Homo sapiens: one gene and its partners. The protein of the gene in region 1 interacts with the protein of each later gene in a biochemical or structural test. Each region holds a gene or a part of one and is shown on either strand. Other genes may lie near its edges.

What was found. The genes of interacting proteins can lie anywhere in the genome.
Region 2: the proteins of COPG1 (region 1) and DRD1 form a complex in vitro, tested with the Homo sapiens proteins (one study listed by BioGRID).
Region 3: the proteins of COPG1 (region 1) and COPA form a complex in vitro, tested with the Homo sapiens proteins (one study listed by BioGRID).

The regions. Positions count from the first base shown.
Region 1 is NC_000003.12:129,259,606-129,263,105, reverse strand, and holds part of COPG1 (coatomer subunit gamma-1), read right to left. Parts: intron 2,774-3,500; coding exon 2,706-2,773; intron 2,488-2,705; coding exon 2,299-2,487; intron 1-2,298. UniProt on the Homo sapiens protein: The coatomer is a cytosolic protein complex that binds to dilysine motifs and reversibly associates with Golgi non-clathrin-coated vesicles, which further mediate biosynthetic protein transport from the ER, via the Golgi up to the trans Golgi network.
Region 2 is NC_000005.10:175,441,383-175,445,397, reverse strand, and holds the start of DRD1 (D(1A) dopamine receptor), read left to right. Parts: upstream 1-1,215; 5' UTR 1,216-1,699; intron 1,700-1,815; 5' UTR 1,816-2,298; coding exon 2,299-3,639; 3' UTR 3,640-4,015.
Region 3 is NC_000001.11:160,333,251-160,336,750, reverse strand, and holds part of COPA (coatomer subunit alpha), read left to right. Parts: intron 1-1,428; coding exon 1,429-1,509; intron 1,510-3,071; coding exon 3,072-3,148; intron 3,149-3,500. UniProt on the Homo sapiens protein: The coatomer is a cytosolic protein complex that binds to dilysine motifs and reversibly associates with Golgi non-clathrin-coated vesicles, which further mediate biosynthetic protein transport from the ER, via the Golgi up to the trans Golgi network.

The sequences.
Region 1 (3,500 bases):
TCCTCTCCTTCTGAATTACTCCAACAGTCTCTTTACCCAGTCACCCCTCCACTCTGCTCCAGAAGGACTCTTTTTTTTTTTTTTTTTTTTTGAGACGGAGTCTCGCTCTGTCTGGAGTGCAGTGGCACGATCTCGGCTTACTGCAACCTCCACCTCCAGGCCAGGTCAAGCGACTCTCCTACCTCAGCCTCCGGAGTGGCTGGGACTACAGGTGTGAGCCACTACACCAGCTAATTTTTTAATTTTTTTAGTAGAGACAGGGTTTCACCATGTTGGCCAGGCTGATCTCAAACTGCTGATCTCAAGTGATCTGCCGACCTCAGCCTCCCAAGTGCTGTGATTACAGGCATAAGCCACCGCGCCCAGCCAATTTTTTTTTTTTTCAGACAAGGTCTCACTCTGTCACCCAGGCTGGAGTGCAGTGGCATGATCATGGCTCACTGCAGCCTCGAACTCCTGGGTTCAAGTGATCCTCACACCTCAGCCTCCAGAGTAGCTGGGACTACAGGTGCGCATCACCACACATGGCTAATTTTTAAAAAAATTTTCTGTAGGCCGAGTGCGGTGGCTCACGTCTGTAATCCCAGCACTTTGGGAGGCCAAGGCGGGTTGATCATGAGGTCAGGAGATCGAGACCATCCTGGCTAACATGGTGAAACACCGTCTCTACTAAAAAATACAAAAAATTAGCTGGGCATGGTGGCGGGTGCCTCTAGTCTCAGCTACTCAGGAGGCTGAGGCAGAAGAATGGCGTGAACCCAGGAGGCGGAGCTTGCAGTGAGCTGAGGTCACACCACTGCACTCCAGCCTGAGCAACAGAGCGAGACTCCAACTCAAAAAAAAAAAAAAAAATTTGTAGAGATGAGGTCTTGCTACATTGCCCAGACTGGTCTCAAAATTCAGGCCTCAAGTGATCCTCCCTCCTTGGCCTCCCAAAGCACTGAGACTACAAGCATGAGCCACCGTGCCCAGACCCAGAAGGATCTAATATGCAAATCTCACTGTGTCATTTCAGCCTGCAAAGCATTCTTGTAACCCACAGGCAGAGTAGACTGCTGCCTACTTTGCATAATCCACACTATAGAATTTACCACAATATATTATTCATATTATTGTTTGCTCTGATTAAAACTCTCCGGTGACATACTTCATTGTTCTATCAATTAACAATTGTGAAATAACAGAATTACAGAAATTGAGAACAAATTAATGGCTGCCAGGGGTTAGGGAATAGAGAGGTAGGAATGGGCCTGACTATGAAGAGGTAACAAGAGTCTTGTGGAGATGGATAGTTGAGTGTCTTCACTGTGGTGGCAATTTTGAAAGTCTCCACATGACATCTTGCATAGAACTTCACATATATACACACAGGAGTTGCCTGTGTAGCTGGTGAAATCTGAATGAGCTCTATGGGTCATGCCAGTGTCACTTTCCTGGTTGACATTGTCCTGTGCTAGTGTAGGATGCTGGCACTGTAGGAGAGGGTTGATGGAGGGGTGCATAGGACTTCTCAGTATATTTCTTTGTAACTTCCTATGAATTATTTCAAAATATAAGCTCAAAAAATATTCACATCCTTCCTCCTGCCCCAAAAGAACACCTTTCCAATGTCTTCCTTGCAATTAAAACTCTTTACCTGACCATGGGCCTTACATGATTGAGCCCTGTCTATTCTGACTTTGTCACCTGCACTGGCCCCACAGCTCTTCCACCCACTGGCCTTCTCTCTCCTTGACTTGCTCCTGCCTTTCCTCCTGGTTCTTTGCACTGATTCAGGTTTGAGCTCAAATGTCACCCTCCAGAAGGGCCTTCCCAGACTGTGCTCTTCCTAGGATCATCCCTGCTGTATTTCTACACTCTTGACTGCAGTACCCATGCCTGAGATGATCTCGTCTACTCCTTTCTTTACCTGTTTACTGTTCCTCTCCCATCCCTAGAAAGGAAGCTCCAGGAGGGCAGTCACCTGCTTTGTTCACTGCTATGTTCCCCTTTTGTCACTCTACATAGCAGACAGCAAGTGCTCAAGAAATACTTGGACAACAAATCAATGAACCCTTAACTGGCCTGGAAACTACTGTTCTTTCAGTACAAGGGGACGATATGGATGGAGGCCTGGAGGCAGGACTACGCACATTTCTCGGAAGGCCAAGTCTCTGCAGAGCAAACTGCTGGCCTCCTCTGAGTCCTCAAGGCTGACCAGCCCCTCAGGTCAGTCCTGGCAGGAAGGCTGTGGCCACAGAGAGCAGGGACAGAGCTCCTTCCTCTGGGGGCCGTGGGTGTCCTGGGGGTAGCAGGTACCTTGAATTCATCCGAGATTTCTGACATGAAGGAGGAGATCTGCTTCATGAGGCGGTCGATGCTGCTCTCGCTGCCCGTCTTAAGGAGGGTGGTGATGGCCAGCGTGGCAATGCTGCGGTTTGAATCTGTGACCAGGTTCTCCAGATCCAGATTACAAGCTGTCACAGCTGACGGATGCTTCATGGCAACCTGTTTTGGGAGGACAGTGACAGAGAGGGCAGGAACCCAATGCTGTCACTACATTTGATGGTTTGGCCCAGTCAGAAGTCCTTTGGATGAGATCATCTCACCATCTAGAAGAAACTAACTGTGACCAGGGCTATTATCCTTCCCAGCCAGGTCAGAGGCTAGGACACACCTCCAGTTGGATCAGACAGCTTCCTCCAACCCCCAAGCTGGACTCTTACCTTATTGAGGGTACGAACAGCAGCATAGCGGAGAGCAGCCTTGGGTGAGCTGCAGAAAAGCTGGAGCACTGTGGGGAGATGGATGCCACATGTCAGGTTGCCTTCACTGCTGGGCAGCTGGGAAAACCGGGGGCTACTGTTCTGACTCAAACCCTCTGCTCAGCTCATTTCCCTGCTGACACCCCCATCCCAACCCAAGACACAGAGCTCCCCTCACCCTGCGCACCTGAGCCATGGACAGAGGCCATAATGTCTGTGAGCACCCAGGGGTTCCAGTGAGGGCTGTTATTCACTGGGCATCTGCTGTGTGCCAGGTGCTGTGCTATACAGTGGACATGCCTCACTTCTATAGCTTGCAGCCACCACTAGCCCACTTTACAGATAAGGAGACTGAGGCACAAAGGGGAAAGCAAACAAACTTTAGGTTGGCAGCCAGTAAGTGGCAGAACCAAGATTAAATTCCAAGACTGCCTGCACCTGCAGCCTAAGCCCTTAACCTCTGTGAAGTAATATTCCACTCCTCTCTCCTACTGTGTCTACAGGATCCAACAGAACTTCCCCCTTGGCACCAAGTGCTGAAGAACAAAGTCCTCTCTTAAACAAATGGTTTATTTCCTTTAACTAGATGAGAGCCATTCGGGTACCATATCCCTCCCTTGCCCTGGCTGCCCGGAAGCTCAGAGCTAAATTTGGCACTCAATCATAGGAGCGAAGATGACTACTGTTTTCTGGAATATCTATGTTCCTTTCTTCATAACTTGGCTTTTATTCTCTAATACTCAAAAAAAATTTTTC
Region 2 (4,015 bases), on another chromosome or scaffold:
TCCAGTTTGTGGGCTCCTGTACCACATGCGGTGAGTTAAAAGAACAGGTGGGCAGCGGCGCGGCTCCCGCGTGAGCTGTGTGACTTTGAGCAGGCCCCACTACCTTTCCGAGCCGCATTTCCACCTGGGCGAAGCGGGTTGAGCCGGCCTGGCGGGGAAAGATTCTTTTAACGGGGGAACAACGTAAGGCGTGCACCGGGGAACACGGATGCTGCTGAGTCAATGCCCGCTCTGCCGTTCTCTTTGAGAGTAAGGCTTGCGTCTCGCCTGCTCTAGCGCCCCAGGTTTGAACGCAGTGGGCGCGCAGGAGGAAACATAGATTCACGAATGCAATGCCAGCAAAGTAAAATTTTTCACCCTTGTCCGTTTTTCAGGGTGTTTCAAGCGGAGGAGTCCTGAGTGGAGAAGATTCCGCTTCCCTGTTTTCAGGTTCTGGCAGTCATGGACCGGGAAGAGCGAGTCGGGGCGCGGGTCCCTGGCGGTCGCTGGAACCCTTGTGAGTGAGGTTGGTGCCCGCGAGGGCACAGCGGGCGCTCGGGAAGTCGCAGCCGCCGGCAGAGGGCGCCCCGGGCACACGGAGCGCGCGGCGCTGGGGTTGGGGCGCTCGGGAGGTGCGGGGCACCGGCTGGAGTCCGGCGTTGACCGCAGCCGGGACGCGCCCGCCACCTGGGCGGGGAAGGAGTGAGTCCCCTCGGGGCGCAGCGGCGCGCGCTGGCCCGGATCCCAGCTGCGCCGCGCCCTCCCTGCGAGCGGTGAGTACAGGCGCCCACGGGCATCTCCAACCCTAGTTAGGGGACACTTGGAGACAACGCAGGTCGGACGTCCGCCGGCCGTTCTAGGAGTTGGTGTGCGGGGAATGGGGGGTGCTCCCGCTCGCTTAGGGCTTTGGGTCCGGCTAGGGGTTGACCCCAAGAGGCGCTGGATGTCGGGGCTGAGCTTTGCTTTCAGGGGACTCAAGCTTACTTGAGGTTCTGACATTGGATTTGCCTCGCGGGCCCTGCGCGTGCTGCGCGGGGATCCGGAGACTGGCGAGGTAACCAGGGAGGGCAAGCACTCACCGGGGCGTCCTCCGCCCACCTCGCCCGCAGAACCATCCAGGGGGACCACGTGCGGCTGTCGCCCGCAACTCTGCCTGTCAAGCGAGGACCGCCCCCAGGGCAGGGGAGGGGACGCGCGGGCGGGGTGGGCTGTGCCCCGCGGGAACCCCGCCGGCCTGTGCGCTTGCTGGTGCCAGCTCGGCTCGCTGCCTCGCATTGCCACAGGCTCCTGAGAGGTCGCGGGCAGTGCCTGCGGGGAGGCGCGGGGCCCTGCTCTGTAGGGCTGAAGGCCGCCCGAGGTTCGCCAAGGCTCTGGGCTCTCGAAAGGAAGCCAAGAAAAGAAGCTGCCCAGGTGACCAGTCCTGGGAGTGCTCTCTCCCAAGGAAGCTCCGAGCGCCCAGGAGCCCTTAGCCGGGGTCTAGTGCCCTTTGAACAATCTCCAGCTCTTCAAGGAAGTGGGCTGCCGCCGCCTCTCTTGGGACCTGGCCTGGGATCCTTTCCCCAAACGCACCCCGGCGATTTTTGCGCACCGGGAGCCGAACCCCTGCTGCGCGCAGCTGGCTGGGCTCAGGCGCGCTTCCTCAACGTTTCGGAGCCGCTGCCCCCAGCGAAGTCCACATTCCAAGCTCCAGGGGCTTTGAGAGAGACGACCCCAAGGCAAGGTAGGTGGCTCGGACGGGCTCGCCCTGGGAATTATTAGGTTGGGCTTGACGTGAGTAATGATGCCATCTGCTTAAGTCTTGGAGAAAGACCGTGTGTTTTCCTTTTGCTTTTTAAGGCGTTTGGAGAGCTGCTGAGGAGCCAGGGGCTTGGAGGAGCGAGAAGACATGTATTTTCAGCTGAGTCTCAGAAGGGGAGAATCTCCTGTCACCACCAGAAAAGCAACAGCCCCGAAATGTGATTGCAACTGACTAGCAGAGCAGAGGCCCAGGAGTCACTGGATTGATGATTTAGAATATGCTAAAAAGCCAGTGCTTTATTTGGGGAATTCAGGGGCTTTCTGGTGCCCAAGACAGTGACCTGCAGCAAGGGAGTCAGAAGACAGATGTAGAAATCAAGAGTGACCATCCACGGGATTGACTTGGATTGCCACTCAAGCGGTCCTCTCATGGAATGTTGGTGAGGCCCTCTGCCAGGGAAGCAATCTGGCTGTGCAAAGTGCTGCCTGGTGGGGAGGACTCCTGGAAATCTGACTGACCCCTATTCCCTGCTTGGGAACTTGAGGGGTGTCAGAGCCCCTGATGTGCTTTCTCTTAGGAAGATGAGGACTCTGAACACCTCTGCCATGGACGGGACTGGGCTGGTGGTGGAGAGGGACTTCTCTGTTCGTATCCTCACTGCCTGTTTCCTGTCGCTGCTCATCCTGTCCACGCTCCTGGGGAACACGCTGGTCTGTGCTGCCGTTATCAGGTTCCGACACCTGCGGTCCAAGGTGACCAACTTCTTTGTCATCTCCTTGGCTGTGTCAGATCTCTTGGTGGCCGTCCTGGTCATGCCCTGGAAGGCAGTGGCTGAGATTGCTGGCTTCTGGCCCTTTGGGTCCTTCTGTAACATCTGGGTGGCCTTTGACATCATGTGCTCCACTGCATCCATCCTCAACCTCTGTGTGATCAGCGTGGACAGGTATTGGGCTATCTCCAGCCCTTTCCGGTATGAGAGAAAGATGACCCCCAAGGCAGCCTTCATCCTGATCAGTGTGGCATGGACCTTGTCTGTACTCATCTCCTTCATCCCAGTGCAGCTCAGCTGGCACAAGGCAAAACCCACAAGCCCCTCTGATGGAAATGCCACTTCCCTGGCTGAGACCATAGACAACTGTGACTCCAGCCTCAGCAGGACATATGCCATCTCATCCTCTGTAATAAGCTTTTACATCCCTGTGGCCATCATGATTGTCACCTACACCAGGATCTACAGGATTGCTCAGAAACAAATACGGCGCATTGCGGCCTTGGAGAGGGCAGCAGTCCACGCCAAGAATTGCCAGACCACCACAGGTAATGGAAAGCCTGTCGAATGTTCTCAACCGGAAAGTTCTTTTAAGATGTCCTTCAAAAGAGAAACTAAAGTCCTGAAGACTCTGTCGGTGATCATGGGTGTGTTTGTGTGCTGTTGGCTACCTTTCTTCATCTTGAACTGCATTTTGCCCTTCTGTGGGTCTGGGGAGACGCAGCCCTTCTGCATTGATTCCAACACCTTTGACGTGTTTGTGTGGTTTGGGTGGGCTAATTCATCCTTGAACCCCATCATTTATGCCTTTAATGCTGATTTTCGGAAGGCATTTTCAACCCTCTTAGGATGCTACAGACTTTGCCCTGCGACGAATAATGCCATAGAGACGGTGAGTATCAATAACAATGGGGCCGCGATGTTTTCCAGCCATCATGAGCCACGAGGCTCCATCTCCAAGGAGTGCAATCTGGTTTACCTGATCCCACATGCTGTGGGCTCCTCTGAGGACCTGAAAAAGGAGGAGGCAGCTGGCATCGCCAGACCCTTGGAGAAGCTGTCCCCAGCCCTATCAGTCATATTGGACTATGACACTGACGTCTCTCTGGAGAAGATCCAACCCATCACACAAAACGGTCAGCACCCAACCTGAACTCGCAGATGAATCCTGCCACACATGCTCATCCCAAAAGCTAGAGGAGATTGCTCTGGGGCTTGCTATTAAGAAACTAAGGTACGGTGAGACTCTGAGGTGTCAGGAGAGCCCTCTGCTGCTTTCCAACACACAATTAACTCCGTTTCCAAATACATTCCAGTGTATTTTCTGTGTTGTTCATAGTCAATCAAACAGGGACACTACAAACATGGGGAGCCATAAGGGACATGTCTTTGGCTTCAGAATTGTTTTTAGAAATTTATTCTTATCTTAGGATTTACCAAATAGGGCAAAGAATCAACAGTGAACAGCTTCACTTAAAATCAAATTTTTCTGGGAAGAAAATGAGATGGGTTGAGTTTGCTGTATACAA
Region 3 (3,500 bases), on another chromosome or scaffold:
TTGATTATAAACAAATATTAAAAAGAAATTTAAAAAAATTAAATAAGAAGAAAAATGCATCTGGTCTCTTATTTTTGTACATTTTAGGGGATTTTCTGAATGAGGAAGATAAGCTATTTTATATTTATGATCCTGGTTTTCATGTCTTCAGTTGTGTTCATTGATGCCTAGTACTTTGGTAGTTGACTCAACTTCACATCTGAATATGATATTGTTTCTCTGCTTAGCTCAGGCTTACTGAGCAATGTAGTATTTTCCATGTAATAAGTTAAGGTCTGTTTGCTTGACAGGTGAGTACAGACCACACATGTATGGGCGTTGTTTGCCATCAAGTTAGGAGCCTAAGAAGCTGATGCCCTATATTATTGTTTCCCTTGGAGTCATGGTATCTATCTGTCCTACTTTTTTTTTTTTTTTTGAGACCGAGCCTCTCTCTGTCGCCCAGGCTGGAGTGCAGTGGAGCGATCTCAACTCACTGCAAACGCCGCCTCCCAGGTTCAAGTGATCCTGCTGCCGCAGCCTCCCAAGTAGCTGGGATCACATCCGGCTAATTTTTTTTTGTATTTTTGTAGAGACAGGGTTTCCCCATGTTGGCCAGGCCGGTCCCAAACTCCTGACCTCAGGTGATCCCCCTGCCTTGACCTCCCAAAGTGCTGGGATTACAGGTATGAGCCATCGTGCCCAGCCTGTCATACTTTTTAAAAGTGATGGGTAAAGCACTTAAGGGGTCTATATTCAAGCCAAGAGCACAATTTTGCAGTAGAAAAAAGAGTTGCAAATCAAGCCCTGGATAAATATCTCCTGCTATTAAATGCAGATGGCTTCTTCCCAAAGAAAGAAAAACTTTTTTTTTTTTTTTTTTTTTTTGAGACTGAGTCTCGCTCTGTTACCCAGGCTGGAGTACAATGGCATGATTTCGGCTCACTGCAACCTCTTGTATCCTGAGTTCAAGCGATTCTCCTGCCTCAGCCTCCCGAGTAGCTGGGACTACAGGCACATGCCACCACGCCTGGCTAATTTTTTGTATTTTTAGTAGAGACAGGGTTTCACTATGTTAGCCAGGATGGTCTCGATCTCCTGACCTTGTGATCCACCCGCCTCGACCTCCCAAAGTGCTGGGATTACAGGCATGAGTGACCACGCCCAGCCTGAAAAACTTCAATAATTTTATCTTTAGCTTTTCCCTAATCCTACCCCAACCCCATGTTGTTTATCTGACCTATATTTTCATTCTTGTTCTTTTCCCCTCAAATCTTAAACAAGGCTTTCTACCAAGGTTCCTACCTATTTAGAAATGCCAAAATACAAATAATGTATATAAATCTATATTTATATACATATTTCTATCTCTGTAAAGATATCAATTTCTCTGAGCCTTTTAGAGGCTCAATAACTATTTCTGTTTCTTAGTTTGATTTGTCTTTGCAGGTTTGGAATTACAAGCTTCGGCGCTGTCTTTTCACATTGCTTGGGCACTTAGATTATATTCGCACCACGTTTTTTCATCATGTAAGTAGTCATGGTGGCGCTAGTTTTGGAGCATTCTTAGTTTCCCCATAGTAATCTTTATTTGATCCTTGAGAACCCATGTTTTAATAATAGAGTTGTTTTTGGAGTGGCTCTTCTACAATCTGTGTGGTATTGTCCTTTCTGCTTTTTTTCTTTCTGCAAAAGGAAGCACTTGGGATTATACTGAATTTAATTTTATTGGATTCAGTGGATTCTATGGGAAGTCATTGTTTCTCTGTAGGGAAAAGTAGGGATTTGATTTCAGATTTGCTGAACCAAAAAACAAAAGTTTGCCAGCTAATCCCATGTAGGGTATTATTAGTAAGTAGTAGGTGTGTCTGGAAGAAGGTCAGACTAAGATGCCATTTTGATCAGCTAACAAACGTTTCGAAGTATTAACAATCATACCCCTCTATCCTAGGATTTTTGGGTCTGGTGGAGGCTGTTCCCTTAGCCAGGCTTACTACTTTCTTTGATCTGCCAGGTAACATAGTAGATTTAGATAGTGAGGTGCAGATTACAGACTCCCAACCTCTGAATCCAGTTGCACCCTGACAGGATCTCCTTATAGTTCTGTGTATTAGCATTAACTTACACTATTCTTTGATTGCCAGTAAATTAAGTCTCTTTAATTAAGTTAGAAAGAATATGATGAAATAAACAATTTACTGGTTGAGTATATATTATTTCTTTTTTTAATTAAAAAATTCTAGGATAGGAGAGAATGAGAAAATTACAGCTTAAACATTTGAGAATGATAACCACTCAATAAGATAACTTATTAAGTAGGAATTATTTGTCATTGCCATAAAGGACTTCCTGAAGACCCTTGCCTAGAACAAGTTGCCATCTACCTGGAAAGTTACGAAAGACCTTATTTTCTTTCATTTTACCAGCTCACTAAATATGTGTGTGCCTTATACTTGCTAAGCTTTGTGCTAAATACTGAAGGTAGAGATACTATCTCTATTGAAAATAGAAATACCATCTATTTTCAGTGTTTAACACAAAGCTTAGCAAGTGTAGTAAGAAGGAAGTGTAAATAAGAAATACTTCCTTTTCTCAACAATCTTATAGACTCCAAAAAGGCTAAATTGTCTTTACATGTTACTTTCTGCTTTGCTTGCTGAGACCTGGGAATTTTTTGAAACTGGACAGAAAGAAGTCAGACAATAAAATAATATTCCCATCCTAGAGTTAAAGGTAGAAGAGTCTTTCACAGGATCTTAATTTACATGATTAACTGTATATAAATACACACACACACACACACACATATAGAAGTAAATGTAAATGTATGTTTCACTATCTGCCTCTGAGAATGTATTGTGCCTCTAACTGGCTTCCATTCTTAAGTCTTATAGGTGAAAGTGCCGAAGTTGAGAAAAGCTGTTAGAGTGGTAGAGAAAAGGAGACAGCTAACCTGATAGCAAAAGCAGCAGCCCCTTTGCTAATGTAGCTGAGCCGTTAAGCAATGCAGTTCTTTAGAGAAAAATGATTACAAGAACCTGATAGAACAGATTTGTTTAATGTTTAAAGCCTTTGTCTGGAATATCTTTCAGGAATATCCCTGGATTCTGAGTGCCTCCGATGATCAGACCATCCGAGTGTGGAACTGGCAATCTAGAACCTGTGTTTGGTAAAGCAGGAGGCAGAGGGCTCGAAAAGAGTCTTCATTTTTCCTAGTTTTTCATAATGAGCTTCTCTTAGAACAATCTTCTCCCTTCTCAAATGGACTATGTCGGCTGATTAATTACTGATTGTATTTGTAGGATGCTTTTAAGTGCAAAATAATAAATGTAGAGGCAATCCCATATATGAATCTGGACTTCCAATAATTTCTTACCAGGAAGAGAAGTCATATAGCCTTTTAGAACAAGAACTTTTAGCTGGTTTTCAATTATTTTCCCATAAAACCTGAGTCAAGGTCTAGACCTTTGTCTTATTTTGTGTTTGGAGCTGGAGCTTTACATAGAACTTTCCATGAAGAG